2 separate regions of the Homo sapiens genome follow, and region 1 is linked to region 2. The links come from fine-mapping of genetic effects on gene expression. A gene starts in region 2. The other region holds a variant in brackets. All regions are shown on one strand. Distances are from middle to middle. Region 1 overlaps CENPE (centromere protein E). Region 2 holds the start of BDH2 (3-hydroxybutyrate dehydrogenase 2).

Region 1 (4,402 bases), 35 kb after region 2:
ACTCACTTTCTGAGAAATCTTTGAGAATTTCCTGTGTGAAAAATAAGCGTCAAATTGTTTAAACATTAGGAAAGTTTTGATCCAAATATTTTATTTATATATATATATATATATATATAAAATAAAAAGAGGGCAATACCTAGTGGACTCTTGCTTTTCTTCCTTTTAATATCATTTCTTAATATTTTAAAGTAAACTAAGAAATATAATTGTAAGTTAAAACTTTATTCTAGTTATTTGCATAATATAATTTTGGCAGTATACATGATGTAACAGATTGTACCTATTAGAATTAAAGCTTGTCAAAATGACAAATTTGTGACTAATTGCTACAATACCTGAAGTGCATCTTAATTTTTATTTTTTGAGATGGTCTCACTATGTTGCCCAGGCTGATCTTGAACCCCTGGAGTCAAGTGATCCTCCTGCCTGAGCCTCTTAAGTAGCTGGAATTACAGGCATGCCACTGGGGCTGGCTTCATGAAGTGCTTCTAAATGTAGCTTTTCAGTACATATAGCAGACCTTACATACATGTTGGGAATTGGATGCCAGCCTCACATAGATGAATGCAAGTAACACATTCCATGTGGAGTTGTTGTAATAAAGCGGTTTCTGACTCCCAGCATAGACATAAGTTTTCCTGTATCTATTGAGGTCTGAAGAGAGGCTAGTCCATTATTTGCCAGTCTTTATGTCTGGCCAGGTATCACTCTGCAACGTATTTTTAATTTCTGGTAAATGAAAATAGCTCTAAGCACATGAAAAAGTACCTTTCTACTTGATAAAAAGGCTTAAAATCTAACTAAATCCATTTAAAATAAATTATACCTCAATATGTAGATCCATATTCTGGTTCAATTTGAGATCCCTTAATTCTCTGGATGGTACATCACAATCTTGTTGAAGGTGCTGTATTTTAATTAGCAATTCCTTTTGCTTTTCCACTTCATCAATAAAATCCATTTCAAATTTATTGATGGATTCATGTTGTTCTTCTTTTATTTTTGTAACATAGCTTAACACATACTTGCAGAAAAAAATTAAACAAATTGGTAAATGAAAATTTTGTCACATGTAGAGAAAGTTTTCATCCTTGAGACTATGAGGTAGGATGACATCTCTTATTTACCTATATCCTCTCACAAGTGAGGAAAAGGGAAAGAGCTTCTCTCTATCCCCAGTTTTTCCTCTTAGTATCTTAGGAGAATAACTAACTCCCAGACCTATAATTCCTTATTTCTGACTTCTTACCAGATATACTTCTTGGATGTCTTACAAGTACTTCAAATTCAACATGTTTAAAACGTAACATGATCCCTTTCTCTACAAGTCCTCCTTTTTCTATTGCCCAGTTTTTGGCTAATTACATTACCAATCACCCAGGTTTCCCAGTTAAACTCATGAGACTCATTTTCAACATCCTCTCCTGCCAACGCTGATTGGGTAACCAAAAAGATGAAGTTACATGCCTCAAGACTTCCTTGTCGGCCGGACATGGTGGCTCATGCCTGTAATCCCAGCACTTTGGGAGGCTGACGTGGGCAGATCACAAGGTCAGGAGTTCGAGACCATCCTGGCTAACACAGTGAAACCCTGTCTCTACTAAAAATACAAAAAATTAGCTGGGCGTGGTGGCAGGCGCCTGTAGTCCCAGCTACTTGGAGGCTGTGGCAGGAGAATGGCGTGAACCCGGGAGGCGGAGCTTGCAGTGAGCCGAGATCATCACACCACTGCACTCCAGCCTGGGCAACAGAGCAAGACTCCGTCTCAAAAAAAAAAAAAAAAAAAAAAAAGACTTCCTTGTCAAGCATATTTAGATATTTGGCTTCAAGAGACAATAATTTCAATGCCAAATGTCTCATGGACTTCATGAATAATTCTAGATGTCTGATTACCAGGATTTGTGGAAGAATTACCAGGGCCCGAAGGGCAATCTACCCAGGTAGGGCAGATACCAGCTTACTTATTCCTCAACTTCCACCATTCCTTAACCTCTTATAATCTGGTCTCTTCCTTAACTACCCAGTTGAAACTGTTCTCTGACAATGATCACTAATGAGTTCTATTATCACCACATTGAGAGAATATCTTCAGTCCATATTCTGACTCTCTGAAGTATTTGCCACTCATAACTTCATCTTTGACATACTCTTCTCCACTGATTTGGGTAGCAGTACTTTTGCTAG[T/G]TTCTCTCCTGTATCTTTGACTTTTCCAACCTTGAACCCATGTGTTGCTCCCTTTTCTGCTACTGCCTCTTAGACATTTATCTTTTCCAGAGTTCTGTTTTTATCCCAAGGCTCTTAGTCTTCATTATGCTTTCTGGATGATCTTACAAATGTATTATCTATCACCTATATGCTGATCAGTCTCAAATGTTAGTTCTTATTTTTCTCCTGCCAAACCTCAAACTCAAATCTAAATGTCTACTTGGTTTCTCTTCTTGGATGTTCCATCATAGGTATTTCAGCCCCCAAACATCTCAAATTAAACAATCTCCTGCCTCATCTACCTTGTTTCTCTTTCTTTTTTATTTTTGAATCTCAGTTAATGGTACCACTATCGACAAACCTGACTAAGCCCAAATCCAAGAACTCCATCTAAACTTCTCTCCCTTATGTCCACTATCAATTATTTCGACCTACTATTTTAAGCTGCTAAATATTTCTTTAATCTCGTTTGTCCTCTCCAGCCCTGTGAAACCCTCCCTAGTAGTACAGTCACATATAATATCTCATCTGGACCACTGTAACTGCCTCTTATTGCTTTCTGCTACTAGGCTTATCTCCCTCAAACTCATTTCTTCTGTATTCTTTAGTTTAGTACCTAAGTGGTAATCAGATCCTGTTACCACCACCACTTAAAACAATAGTCTAATGATTCCCCATCTACAAAAAGAACTCCAAGCTTTGTTATTGAGTCTGGCTTCTACTACAGTTTCATCTTCTGTAATTTTATTTAGTACGTCATATAACTTGCATACACTTCTATCATTGCACTTAATACTTGTTTATATGTCTGTCTCACCCCAGACTATGAGATCTTTGAGATGTTAACTCACATCTGCCTCCTGAACATCCTGACATAATGTCTAGGCCCACAGGCAGAGTTCAGGTGTTGCTGATATCCTACATATTACTATGCTCAGACCCACATAATCTTTAATTTGGTAGTAAGAATACTAAATAGCAAATATGCCGGCACCTGAAGCAGGACTTAAATACATTGATGTTTATAACTGAAATATTTAAAAGGATATTACTAAAAAAGATGGTACCTTCAGTTTCTTCATGATTCTGTGGAATTCCATGGAGCATCTCTGGTTTGCAGTAAAAAGTTTTTCAATGTGTTTGGTTTGTAAATAGGGAAGTGAGAGGTTTGCTTTAACTCTCATTGAAAGCTCTTTTTGGAATTCAATTTCCTTCTCCAAGTCAAGAGACAATCTATTCAAGCACTCATAATGATCATCCATCTCTGAGTATCTCTTCAAAAGCTCCTAAAGGAAATGAGAATTCACTCAATTTATAACAATTCATTCTAATATCACAATAAGTAGTTACAACTCTAGAATTGTAACAAAACTTATGCTTTAACATTTTCTGTAGGAGAGAAATAAAGACCTTTGTGTCTAAAAACAAAAGGAAACTCTTGTTGTCATTTTGGATAACAGAAATAATAGATAATTATTATGGCAATTTAAAAAATTTAAGCAAATATAACAAAGAAAGCCAGGACCAACCATTCTTAACATTTTGATGCATTTTCTTTTAGTTTTTTGAATATCCATGATATGAATCAACATTGACAAAGTCTGATGAGAAATTTGAGTAAATTCAATTAAGTATGTATTGTAGTTCATGGTTGAGTGCTGGTTTATGTTTATAGTAGGCAGTCTGAGTTAGCAGATAAAACAAGTGATTAAGAATCAAACCACCTATTTGTCAGCTTGGTACAGATACTTCACACAATCCTACTATCTGCCTACAATCTGTTTTCTAACCCTTTATCAGAGGTAGAGTTCAGGTTCCAGCTCTGCCACTTCTTGACTGGGGAAGTCACTGAGCCATTTTCACAACAACAGGAAGACTACAATAATTACCACAAAGTTTTCTGGGGTCAAGTAAAATATATGATCTATACCTATATACCTATGTAATCTATAAAACAGACACAGTCATTTAACTTGAAGGAGACAAAATTATGTTTATAAACATGTTTCTATACCCAAGTTTTGAACTAAGTCAGATACAAGTCTGACTTAGTTTAAAATTCTGATTCTAACAATTTACTAGCTGTGTAACCTTGGGCAACTGCTAAACTTCCTTTCTGAGGAAGGCAGTTTCCTTGTTTATGAATGGAGCAATAAAGCCTATATCATGAGGTAAAGCACCCAGTATGGTACCT
Region 2 (4,402 bases):
TATCTGCCTGATTTTGTACAGGTTGATAGCCTTGCCTAAAGGGCTTATATTACCTAGTCCTTTCTCTTTGAACTTATTTCAGTTCTCTCTTTAGCCAAACTTTTTTTTTTTTATACCCAATATGCTCTTCCATTTCAAACCTCCACACTTGGTCCAAGGTCCACATGGTGAAGGGCAAGTTACTCCTATAGGCAACAGCCACTGAAGGATTTATGGAAAGGGTGTGAAATGATCAGATTCGTATTTTGGAAGGACTGCTGTGGAGAACATACCTGGGCAGGAGCATGGGGTGCCATTAGGAGGCTGCTAGGGTTATCTAGTGGGGGCGCTGGTGAAATAGCAGGGCTGGAGAAAATAGCAGGGATGGAGAGATAGGTGGATTGGAGAAGTGTTTCAGAGATGAGATAGGTAGGACCTGATCACCAACGTGGCTAATTTCAAAGAAATGTTATTTGCCCAGTGTTTTGCAGCTATGAATTCAAACCTAGGCCTTCTTGTTGCAGGTCCAAGGGAAGATCTCATGGCATTGTCTCATGGTACTCAAAGCCCTGCGGGCCTCTCTAAATCCCCACTGTGGCACCAGGAGCCTGTGCCTCGCAGACCGCTGACCCCAGGAAGTAATGGACAATGAGGCGCAGCTGCTGCTGCCTCTCTGGGTTTGTGCTGAGGCCACCTTCTCGGGGCCGTTACAAGCCAGTGCCTGAGCATGCATGCTTACTAAGGCAGACTCATTTCTGGGAGACATAGACCTCCTCCCCAACGGATGACTGGCTAGAGAAGCTCCTTATTACCTTGCTGAAGTTCTCTTAGACTGCACAGCTGTCTGGGATGCTTCCACTCAACCTGGTTTCCTTCTTTTCCTCCCTCGCGGGTGGACTTGCATCGAGGTCTGATGGCTCTCACAGCCTTACCTAGTTCTCTCCTCATTCTCTCTCACAACAGCATTTCCCCTAATAAAATCCATGCATATTTAATTCTATCTTGGAGTCTGCTTCTTGGAGGAGCAGACTAACACAATTATGTAAGAACTGGCTCCAGGGATCAGCTTATAATCACTGACTTCCTCTGAGTTTGTCCACATTTTTTAGGCGATGGGGAAGCTTGGCTTTAACAGTGCCTGACCTACTTTGATGCAATGAATTTTTGCTTTTTTACTTCTTACACAAAAGATAAACATGGAATGTTTATCATTTCAACATGGAATGACAGTTTCTAAAGTATAACTTTAGAAAGATATACTTTATCCTCCTTGAATCCTAAGCATGGTGCACAAAAGCTATTTTACAACACTGTCATTAGTGATATTGGGTGTATGGCCCTGTAAAGCCTCCAGTCAAAGGTTTTGCTAGGAATCTTTGCCAACCGAAGAAGCACTTCCAGAACAAATGCCGAAGCACAGAGCAGCCTTTCTATGCACTCTGAAAACCTCCTCTTAGCTGGCCTTCCTGTCTTTCTGGGACCAGATTTTGGGGTCAAAGCCTTAACATTTGATAAACTGTAATCTCAAACTAAAACAGATTTCTTTGAGAAAATGAGAGCAAACACGGCCTGAAATGGTAAAACAAGGCACCTCTCAATATATCCAATGTGAAAACCATACATGTTGGCTTCCTTAGTCCAAAAGTTAGAATCAAAATGTTGATTTTTGATTAGCAGAGACACAAACAGCATATTCAGGAAGCCATTGTTTTCAAGAGCCAGGAAGAAAACTCTTCACTTAGGATACCGTAAGAATCCTTTTTTCTTGGGCTACTTTATAAAACATACATACCACAGAGTTTCAGGCTCTTTAAAAACCCATCTTTACACTGATCTAACTGCTCAGATTAATTTTGAAACAGGCAACGTGCAGAAAAAAACAACATCTAAAAATTAAACCTCCCCTCTTTCCGTTCTAAAGTTTCATTTCAAAAGTATTAGGAAATCTTACTTTAAGCAGCGAGCTGATGGCGTTCTCCAGAACTCGGTTTGAGCAACAAACTTGAGACAACCTTTGTCTGGAAGCAAGTCAAGCGCTTAATAATGCATGCTGGGATTTGTAGTTTCCCTGCTTTCAGAGTTTAGTGGCTCCATCCATACACTTTATAAATGTATGTGCTGCCATCTAGTGGAATTCAGGTAGAACTATGAATTCCAAGTGGAAGGTGAAAAGTGGAAAAGCACCTTAGAGCTTACTTAGGATGCGGAAATCATTTCCTTCACTTCAGTCTCTCCACTTCTCTGTTTTGTTTATGCCTACTATATGCGGTGCCAGGGTAGACGAGATTGGCTGAGCTGGAAACTGCGTGTGGAAGATAGCAGAGCAACAAAATAGAGGGAACCCAGGTCACTGAAAATTCTGGAGCCTTCCTGTCACTTGGCCTGGATTGTTTTAAGGGAGAGAAATAAAAAAAAAAATCCTTTTTGTTTGAGATACAGTTGTGATTTTTATTTTTTCATGCTCAGAATATTCTAACACTAATGCACATTTAGTGGCAGAATGCCAGGAGCCTTTTACTACACTGGGAATGGGGTTGGGGAGAACGTGAAACTTGGATGACAGGGTGGAGGCTTAAAAGGGAACATGTTAACAGCGAAAAACCCCAGTTTGGCTGAAGAGAACAGAGATATAAGGTCAAAAAGAAAGGACTAGATCTCATGAGCCCTCTAGGTTAGGATAGCAACATGTGCTTTATCTGTAGTGCCAGTGAGCAGAGTGATTGTGTAGGCTACTTGTACATGTACTGTATAAATTGGTTTCCTCAGCACCCATCCAACTCACTTTCCCCTTTTTTCACTTGTCAAAGCTGGAAAACAAAAGTCTCTACTTCATAGCCTTGTTTGCTGCTAGGGGTGGCCAAGCAGCATAGATGTTGCCAATGAAATGCAGGTGGGAATTTCTGAGGAGGGCCTCCTTCTTAAATAGAAAAGTAAGCCCTTCTGAAAGGCTTTTAGCTTTTGCTCCTCCCTTTCTTTTTGCCTGGAATGAAGATAGGATGCCGTGGGACAGAGCAGCCATTTAGTGAGTTCATCTGAGGCCAGAGGCACACATTAACGACAGGGACCAGCAAGAGAAGGAGCCTGCGGCCCTGATGACAGCCTCAAGGCAACAACTCCTCTGGACTTCTTATGTGAGGACAATAAACTTTAGTGTTTTTCACGTTTTTTGTTACATGGAGCTAAGTGATTTCTAACAGTCACAGGGGATAAGAACAAAGACTGTGGCGTCAGTAAGACTAGAGCAAGTCCCATATCTCTCTCTCACTAGCTAAGTGAGTAAATCACTTAAATCTCTGAACCTCTTATGTTTCTCATCTGTAAAATGAAGGTAAAATAGCACCTACCTCAGGGATGTGGTGAGGAGGAACGACTAAGCCTGTGAATCCATCAGCACAATGTTTGCCACACAGGTGCTTAATACATGTTAGTGATTCTTATGATGAAGACATTGTTGGAGAAATTTAATTATAATGGATGGTAAAAGTTGCGCTTTTTAATGTTCTTTTAAAAACTGGACTTAGTTTCTGCATGTGTCTATATGAGGTCTATGGTAAAATTGTCCCTCCTTGTTCATTGTTTCAGCAACTTCTAATGCTGGCTCTAACAATCTGTAATCACATCTAGCTTTGTTCCTGCTTTACTAATAATGCCCTTTGACTTTTGAGGCTTTTGGAACAGACTTTATGAGAGTTCTCTAATCAAAGCCAACTCCAATGCTTCTTGATGTAGCTTTCTTCAGCATCCCTCTGTAATCTTCAGCAACAATGCTTACTTGATAACAGCCTAAGTCACATGGTATTGCAAATACTTGCTTACCCATTAGTATTCTCAGCAGACTAAATTTCTTCAAGGGTGGGGACTATGTTTTACACCTTTACATTGTGATTAGCTCGTATTAAAAGAGTATTAGTTACTTGTTTTCTTATCTACAATATGAGTTCCACATTGGTAGTGCCTTTCAGTGCCTAAAACAGTAATTGGCAGATAGTAGATGCTCATTAAATATTTGCTGAGTGAATGGCAGTTTCTTAATAAGTTTCCTGAATATAATTCTGCCAGGCTCTCAAGACAATGTTTGTGATAATTAATTTTAGGTGTCAACTTGACTGGATTTACGGATCCCCAGAGAGCTGGTAAGCATTATTTCTGGGACATCTCTGAGTGTTTCTGGAAGAGATCGGCATTGGAATCAGTGAACTGGGTAAGGATCTACTTCACCCAATGTGGGCAGGCACTATCCAATTGGCTGAGGGCCCAGATAAAACAAAAAGGCAGAGAAAAGGTGAATTCTCTCTCTTCCGGAACTGGGACATCCATCTTCTCCTGCCCTTGGATACCTGAACTCCGACCAGATTCTCAGGCCTTCAGACTTGGACTGAGCCACGCTCCTAGTTTCCCTGGCTCTCCAGCTTGCAGACAGCCT

Evidence for each region. PIP is the estimated chance that this variant, and not a neighbour inherited with it, causes the effect.
Region 1: its variant is the best candidate, but not a certain one, in a credible set for the expression of BDH2 in whole blood (INTERVAL, PIP 0.88).

Annotation. Positions count from the first base shown.
Region 1 is chr4:103,132,866-103,137,267 of GRCh38, forward strand. CENPE (centromere protein E) reads right to left here. Exons shown (of 49, transcript NM_001813.3): 40 at 3,276-3,494; 41 at 830-1,027; 42 at 1-31. Among named protein-coding and RNA genes, the nearest start is that of BDH2, 35 kb to the left of the region's middle. The variant T/G (reference allele first, on the strand shown) is at 2,188.
Region 2 is chr4:103,097,853-103,102,254 of GRCh38, forward strand. It overlaps BDH2 (3-hydroxybutyrate dehydrogenase 2), which reads right to left and starts at 1,982. Exons shown (of 10, transcript NM_020139.4): 1 at 1,931-1,982.